Linked DNA regions of Homo sapiens: region 2 is linked to region 1. A link means that fine-mapping ties the variant in region 1 to the expression of a gene that starts in the linked region. Tissue or cell type: B cells. Region 1 holds a variant in brackets; the other region holds the start of a gene. All regions are shown on one strand. Distances are between the middles of the regions.

What was found. PIP is the estimated chance that this variant, and not a neighbour inherited with it, causes the effect.
Region 2: it holds the start of LINC02397, and the variant in region 1 is the best candidate, but not a certain one, in a credible set for the expression of LINC02397 in B cells (Schmiedel 2018, PIP 0.71).

Annotation. Positions count from the first base shown.
Region 1 is chr12:92,511,958-92,516,360 of GRCh38, forward strand. LOC105369904 (a long non-coding RNA gene) reads left to right here. Exons shown (of 4, transcript XR_945210.3): 4 at 1-171. Among named protein-coding and RNA genes, the nearest start is that of LINC02397, 47 kb to the left of the region's middle. RefSeq lists a silencer at 4,383-4,403. The variant A/G (reference allele first, on the strand shown) is at 2,045.
Region 2 is chr12:92,464,379-92,468,781 of GRCh38, forward strand. LINC02397 (long intergenic non-protein coding RNA 2397) reads left to right here and starts at 2,301. Exons shown (of 2, transcript NR_144532.1): 1 at 2,301-2,624. RefSeq lists a silencer at 1,935-2,229 and enhancers at 1,942-2,449, 2,206-2,355, 2,556-2,645, 3,426-3,485.

The sequences.
Region 1 (4,403 bases):
CTAACTTCTGCATTCACCGACATGAAACATGCTGAAGTCTGTTTGCCTTGCAGTTCTCTGCTGGATGTGCCAAGAGGGCTCTATTTTAGAGAAGGAAAACTAACAATAGATTCCCGCCAACTAAAAGGGGATTTCTTTTCCTGGGAAGGAAAAAATAAATGGAAAAAAAGATCTTTATCTGGTGATTTGTACTGAAATGAGAATAGTCAGAGCTCATCATCATATCATTTTTAATAGTAACGTCTCATAGAGAAACATAAAAGAAACTTATTAAAGACAAAAATAGTTTATACAAACTTTTTGCTAAGCATATAAAGTTGAATGCATAACATTCCTTCCTCCTCCAGTCTACCTTCTCCATTCTTGTTTCATTTCCTTTTTTTGTCTTTTTTCCTTATCCTTACCCAAAATATACTCTAGGCCATTTTGGAAGATGCAAGGATGATAGATATGGGTATAATAAATAAATATATCCTTTTATGTATATTTATAAATATATTTTTACATTTTCAAAGCAAAATATAAATTAAACATACACATGTTTCTAGGAGTTCATTCCATACCTCTACAATAGTAAAAGAACGTGCTTAACTGAAAACCTCTAAAGCTTTAAAAATTCTTTGAAAGCCAGTTGAAATTTGAGGGGCTTTGACACTTAGTTTTAAGAATACCAAAGTGCATTTCCATTTCCCGCAGGGTTAGCTGGCCATGAACAACTGCAGTTCAGTTTCATAAGCTTTCCTTGATGCTTGCTAGGACCATAAATTCCACCTTCACATACAATTTGCAGTTTAAAGGTATGAATTATCTTACTAAAGAGCCTTTTTGCTATGAGCTTTCTATTCCAAGGTGAATCCCAGTTAAATGCCCCCTCCTGCCCCAATATTCTTGAATTTGAATTGTGGTGCACATTACCAAGGATTACTCCATATTTTCAGGCAATATTGCTATCCTCCTATATGTGCTCAGTCTAAAATATTCAATGAAAAGTGTATATGCAAAGCTAGCTTTACTATTTAATCACTAAAGTTACCTTTGGGAAGCTGAGTATTGATACACAATGCAGAAATATCAATGATCAGTCCCTGAAACACATTTAAACCAGAAGTAGGAGCAGTTAGATTTATGTACCATGATGTCTGAATTTGCAAAGGTTTTCTGGTAATCTGAAGAGTTGTATTGAGTTACTCTCAGCAACTATTTTACTTTATTTTGTAGCTTTGTAATATAGTAAAAGAGCCCTGGGTGAGGAGTTAGGAACTTAGGGATTGCTAAAAGGATTTTATATGCAATATTTTTGAAATCTAACAAAAAATATAAACAGTTAACAATGTCATGACCATGAATATAATGAACGACTCTTTGTTCTGAATTGCTCTAGTCCAGTATAAAATGTTTATAATTAGGTTGATCTTCACAGAAATTCAAAGTAAATTATGTGTACACGCAGGAGAGAGCTGACTTTCCATAATGGCTCTGTAGTTTAAAATCATCAAAAAAGGGAGTATTGCAAAATGTACCACTCCATAAATACTACAGTTCATCAATTAAGCAATACACTAAACATGTAATGATGATAATTTTCCTGTGTATGTCAACCAGGAAACACACAAGCTGGTTGTTAAGTTGCTTCATCATAAGAATAATGATTGTGTGAGTGCTTGGCTAAGTCATTCTCTCTCCCAGCTTAAACATTAATGGGAAAATAATGGAATTATGGAGCTGGCTCTTTTCTTGAAAGCCAGATGTCAATGTCTTAGGATATCTGTGCTATTAAAAACCTCAAATACCCAATTTGTAACTTTAGATGACCAAGTCACTGAAGGTTAGAACTAAGTGGAATTTTAGACATCTTGTAGTTCATTACTTTCATTTTAATGATATGAACACTGAGGACCAGATAGACAGAGGAACTTGTTCAACATCACAAATCTAGCAATAACAAACATATAGAAAGGACTTTGCCCTCATCTATTGGTTCCTAGTCCAGAGCTTTCCTTTCTGCCATGTCACTTGGAAAATAAACACCATTTTCCAAAACCAA[A/G]CACAGGAGTAACAAGCATAAAATGTCAACCTTTCAATTAGGATTCAAAACTATAGAATAAACCTTTGAAGTTTCCAATCTAGTAGCAATTTAAAAAGTGAAATCCTACTAGAAATGCCTCAAGTAGGCTCTTCTTCCTCCCGTGCTATGGGGAAAAAAGACTTGCTACTCATGTAGTAAGCTTAATGTTAAGAGAACTCCATAGTTTATTTTCTACTCAGAGTAAACTTGTATTACTCTCACTCATTTGAAATATCCTTAAAGCCAAAGGATTGTACATGAGGTACAAAATAGAAAGACAGAACTTTATAGTAAAAGTTTTTCTCTAAACCAGAGTTGCTGACTTCGTTTGACTTTTCTTTTATCAATTTTAATACATTCATTTTCCTATTACAAAATCTGCATTATGCTGGAACTATTGCTTATGTGTATATGATACACACACAAAACTGAGTCTTATAAACACCCTTGAAATAATTCAGACACACAAAAAATTGCTTTTTGGTCAAGTGACACCTCAAGGGGCCACAGACTCAGTGCTGCCACAGTTCCACACAATGTTTGTTGTTCATGTATTATTCACTTTTTGGAAACTGCCTTTTGAGCAATGAGTTTACACAATTAAATTTGATTTAATTATAGCCACACCCTGTGTTTCACCAAAAGCCTTATCACTTTTGTCACCCATATTTTTGTTTAATCTCAACTCCTGATTATTTCTTCCTATTAAAGAAATAAAATGTATCTTAAAAGGGCAATGATCTGTCACCAATGAAGATCACTTGGAAATAATATTAATCAGGCTCTATAAAATATTTCAAAAAAGGCCAGGTGCACCTGTAATCCCAGCACTTTGGGAGGCCGAGGCGGGCAGATCACAAGATCAAGAGATCAAGACCATCCTGGCCAACATGGTGAAACCTCATCTCTACTAAAAATACAAAATTTAGCTGGGTGTGCTGGTGCACACCTGTAGTCTCAGCTACTTGGGAGGCTGAGGCAGGAGAATTGCTTGAACCCGGGAGGCGGAGGTTGCAGTGAGCCGAGATCGCACCACTGCACTCCAGCCTGGTGACCTAATGAGAGTCTCAAAAAAAAGAAGAAGAAGAAAATAAATAAGTTTTTTTTTAGATTTTTAAAATTGATACACAGTAATTGTACATATTTATGGAGTACGTGTGATGTTTTGATATGTGCATACAATGTGTAATGATCAAATTAGGGTAAAGATATCCATCAGCTCAAACATTTATCATTTTTTCTCGTATTTCAAAGAAAATTTGATTAACTATGGGCAAGAACATTGGAAAAAGCACATGAACATTGGAAAAAGCAAAAAGATTGGAAAAAGCCTTCCAATCTTTACTACAGGAAGAGACTACTTTCATCAGTATGGACACGTCTGGCACACTTCTTATACATCAGTCTTTTTGACTTGAATAATCTACAACATATAACTTATGTTTCCACAGGTGTATTTCTAAACATTTCTTATAGGGTGGTTTGACACCAAAGGTGAAAGAAGTCCTGCTACATGTCCTAGACTATTACTTCTCTTATTTCTTGAGCAAAGAGGGCAGAAATATTCAAGCTGTGTATTAGTCTGTTCTTGCACTGCTATAAAGAAATGCCTGAGACTGGGTAATTTATAAAGAAAAGAGGTTTAATTGGCTCATAGTTTCACAGACTTCACTACAGGAAGCTTAGGGCTTCTGCTTCTGGGGAAGTTCAGGTTCGCTCCAGGAAACATAGCAGCTTCTGCTTCTGGAAATCCTCAGGGAGCTTTTTTACTCATGGCAGAAGGCAAAGTGGGAGTAGGCATCTTACATGGCAGAAGCAGGACCGAGAGAGAGAGGCAGAGAGGTGCCACACACTTTTAAATGACTAGATCTCACGAGAACTTACTCACTATCACCAAAGGTGAAATCCACCCCCATGATCCAATCACCTCCCACCAGGCCCCACCTCCAACACTGGGGGGTTACCATTCGACATGAGATTAGGGTGGGGACACAGATCCAAACCATATCAAGCTGTAATAATTTTCATTTGCTCCATGCAACCACAATGCTAGCAAGTATCAATTTATTAATGCTGAAATATGAACATTCAAACATATATGACTATCATGTACTCTGTGTGTGTGTGTGTGTGTGTGTGTGTGTGTGTGTGTGTGAGAGAGAGAGAGAGAGAGAGAGAGAGAGAGAGAGAGAACAGGGGGTGGACAGTAGTTATCTCTGCTTAATTATCCTCAATAAAAATGTTTCTTCAACCTGCTTCAAGGCAATCATCCCAGCTAACCTGCTCTGAAGCCCTTTGGGGGCATTTGAAGAGGAGAGAAGGCCCTTTGTTCCCCCTT
Region 2 (4,403 bases), 48 kb before region 1:
TCATCCCAAGGCACAGAGAGAACAAACAAACATATTCCTGAGACATGTCTAATTCATGTGCCATGGTTATCTTGAGATAATTTTCCACTGTACTTTTAATAAAAGAGACACCTAAATTATTTCATAGTTTGCTTTTGTTTTTCCTCCTTGAGCATTGCCATGGTTATTGATATTTATTAAATCAAATCTGCCACTGAAGCATATATAACCACTCAAGAATGAATTACAGCAAATATTTAACTGCCTGCCTGCCTTTGAATTGGTTAATCAGAATGAGTGATGCATTAGCTGGTTCAACTCCTTTCACCTGGAAAGATGGCTATCGATTCCCTTTATTGTGATTTAAAAGATTTGAGGAAAGTCTAAAAGCATTTCAAAAGATTTCAATAAGTAAGACATAATTCTGCTTTTCATAACCACTAAATGAAAAAAAAAACTAAATACAAAAAAGATTCTTCGAGTAAAATTCTGTCATTCTCCACTTTTTATTGTGTTAAAAAAATCAACTATAATATGAGTGAAAGTCAAGTTCTGCTGGTATGTATGAAATGAGAAGAGAGGTGCTGTAGGTTATTAATAACAGGGGATGTTTTGTACCTGTTCTGGAAGATGAATATGCATTTTTGTGTTGGAGCCAGTCCATAAGTCAAATTCCTTTAAAACAGGCAGAGGCCAGCCTTGTTCTGGCTGCAGCCTGCACGGCCAGAAAAACAGAGGAAGAAGCGCCTTCCACCAGCATGAAATGTTATCCACTTTGATATGTAAACATTCTTCCTTCACCTGAAGTTGATGTCAGGGTAACTAAAACACAAGAACTTGGTTGACTGAGCAGAAGCAATCTGTTGTATTCTTCTGTTTTTCAAAACCAGAGATAATCAAGGACTGTTATGTCAGATGCTAGCTGACCTAACTTTTGAGTGGAAAACGAACCAGGAATCTGAGATAACTGGATAGTCTCCGCATATTTTTAAAAAATCAGCATGTCTCTTGAAACTGCTCAGACTTAGCTGATTTTTGTAGTTGTTGTTGTTCTCTTTATAGTTTTTTTTCTTTTTTCTCTGTATTCCAGACTCCTGGCATTTAATCTATTGGGTGGGAATAAATGACGTAAATTGTACTCATATTTGCAAAAAGCCCAAAAAAGATGTTAAGGCTGTTAACAACAGACGTCTACGCTACAGTTGAAATGGGCTAGGTGAATTGAGACAGAATTCTATGAACATTTTATGAAGCTTTCCTTAAATTTCTAATTGAAAATTGCTACTGTTTGTGTTACTGTTGATTCATTTCATTTAAGTCTTGGTCTTGTAGATTCTATTGATACCCCATTCTTGGGGATGAAAAACAATGTTAAATGCGCACATTTGTTAGGAAAATGGGCTGGGTGGGAGACGGAAGGCTTTGGCCGCCATCCTAGGGCATTCCTGTGCATTGCGATGGTCAGCATTTCTGTATCTAAACATCGAAAAAGTACAATAAAAATACAGTATTATAATCTGGGACCACTATCATACACGCAGTCTTTCTTGACCAAAACATCCTTATGCCGTGCGTGGCTGTGCTGAGAAGGAGGAGCACTCGTCCTCTCCAAGCACATCCAATTTGCCTCAGTCCTCATGACTCCCGCCCTGTTACCAGAACTGAGCTCATTTGTTATTGAAGTTGCTTTTCTTATACCCAGCCCAGTTTTCCATTGATGCTTCCGCTTATTCTATGTAGGTATTTTCATTTATCACACAATATCCCTAGTCTAAGACTTCATTTGAGGAAAGAAAAAAAAAAAAACCTCTGCTGCTAAAAATAATTTGAAAACTCCTAGACAATAGGACCTTTCAAATCCCTTACAATTCTAACAACCAGTGAATTCATGCTTCACAGCCATTCAGATCTATACGTATGAAATACAAGACATATGTGTTCAACTTTCCTTCATCGCCTCCTTTAAACTTTCTTTTTTCTTTTTTGAGTCAGTCCCTGCAGGAACAGACCAAGTGAGCCCATTAAGAGAACAGTTCATTCCCACCTGCTACCTCGAGCCAGCCAACAATCTCAGCCTCACCACTCCATTCTTGATTATGTAGAACCATTCCAATCCTGAGTGACAGGATTTGCAAAGACAGCTGTTGGGCTCCACAAACATTTGGAGGAGGGGAAAATGTGAGGTTGGTTGCTACATTCTCCTACTTCTTTTTACTGAAAGGAACAGCTGCGATCTTCACATGTAAGATGAAGTAAACAAAAGCTGACAATGCCCAGCACCATTCAGCAGTAAGCATTCAAATGGATTTTTCCTCACCGCGTTTGCAGGCCCGGCACAGTCTCAGTTCCCCACAGCACAGAGAGGAAGCAAGGTCTTTGCATGCCCTGTTCACTTGGCCAAACATTGCCCTAGATGTGCAATTCAACCCATATAAAGCAAGCGTAATTCAAGAGCCCTGACTCTTTCACCATTTCATGATGGCTTATTACTCGCACACGGCATTGTCAGGTTCCAGCAACTCTGTGTGCAGCAGGCAGAAATGCAGTGTTTATCTCTGACAGGCAAACATTCTTAGGCTCATCGGCATGAGTATCCACGCTGAACTGGCTATCGGGGAAGTAGATCCCTGCATGGGAAAGTCAAGGTATGTTTAGAGGGACTCGATGATTCAACCCCATTGGCTGGTTCATTCCTTTTGTTTCCTCTGCCTTTTTATTTGCTTACACAGAAAACAGAGCATTCATTTATTTCTTTTCCCTCTCTCATCTCTATTAACCACTAGGGCCATCTGCCCATCTGAAACTGTCTTTGGCTGCATGGTTGTGAATCCAGGTGACAGTGAAAATGAAGAAGTGGTGATTGTCCCTGCATGTTTTCTCTGAAGGGTTAACTAAAAAAAAAAAAAAAAAAAGCCTTTGTGTCTGTTTCGAGTTCTCCAGTTGAAATACTGTACTCATTGAACTGCAAGAAATAAAACCTGCAAGTAGGCACTGTGCTAATGTAATAGAAATGTGTTAGACAGGGGCACTATTTCTTAAATATGCTTGAATTAAGCAAGTTCTTTTAAAAAGTGGGTGGGACTTTTGATGTTTTACATAGTTATATTTTCAATTTCTTGTGCTCAGTTTAAAACTCAAGATTCTTTGTTTCTGTGTGTGTCATTAGGGCAGGTGTTGGATGACAAGTAAATGCACTGAAAAATGAAAAAAAAAGATTTGTGCCCTAACCTCCATGAATTTGGTGACTTAATATATCCATACAGATCTGACTTTTAATCAAAGGTGCTCACAGGTGGGGTAAGGGATAAGGAGGAATTTGTCTACAGGATCCTTTTATCCTAAGTTGCCTTACAACATCCAATTGTGTTACCGTTTTTTTTTTTTTTTTTACAAACCCATTGCTAGGCTAAGAAGTATTGATTCCATCTAGTTAAACATGTCGAGTGAGAGGAAGTGATCAATGGATTACTTCTTCAAAACATTTATCCCCCCTAGTGGAATCCTCTGATTTTTATAACATTAAAGAGCCAGGTATAGGAGTTGGGAGAAGAATTTAAAATTTGAAATGTCTTCTTTTTTCAACTCTGTTCATGAAAACTCTAGTTAATGCATGTGATTTCCTGGGTCTCCCTCTCTACTTCCCTCCATTATCACCACCTTTTGTTGCTGCTGGGGCTGTGGGTGCCCTGAAGGAGCATGAGATGGCCTTCCTCAGATATCTGGGTTTTAAATTCAGTTCGTATCTCTTAAGTGAAGTGGGTAGGGCCAAAAATGACTCACTGCCCAGTGGTGCCTGGAAACATTATCAGCAAAGACATTCACCTAGGGAGAAAATAAACACAGAATTCTCATATGGGCCCATCTTTCCAACCATCTCCTGGACTTTGGTAGTCTTTTCTGAGCCAGATATCTCTCTAAAGTCACTTGCTGTCAGACCTTTTTGTCTCATATTTAGGAATGGCTGAAGTTCTTTATAAATCCCAGATGAAACAGGAGGAAAACTACTTTGAAATGATCATTTCCATGATCTCTAAAATGCAACAAACCGTATTTCTTAAGATTAACGGATGCGAGCCTATGACAGGTTCAATGTGGGACCAACTCAAGGGAAATTGATGACCGAATTATTAAAAGGCATTCATTACATCGCAGTTTCACCTGAAGAGGGGGTGTCCCCCAGTAGTGCTTCTGCAGCAGAATTGCTTAGAAACTGCAGAACATCCACAAGGCAAGCACCCCAGGCCATTGTGTCTGACTGTCTTTCAAATAGAGGAATGGCTAGTTGCCATTTGCTGAGGGCATCTCCTGCACTGAGAACTGTGTGCATATATGGATGATATCGCCGAGACTCACAAGTATGCAAGATAGAAACTAGGTGCATTTTTTTCAGATTAGGAACTTGAGAATGGAAGATAAACTGAGAA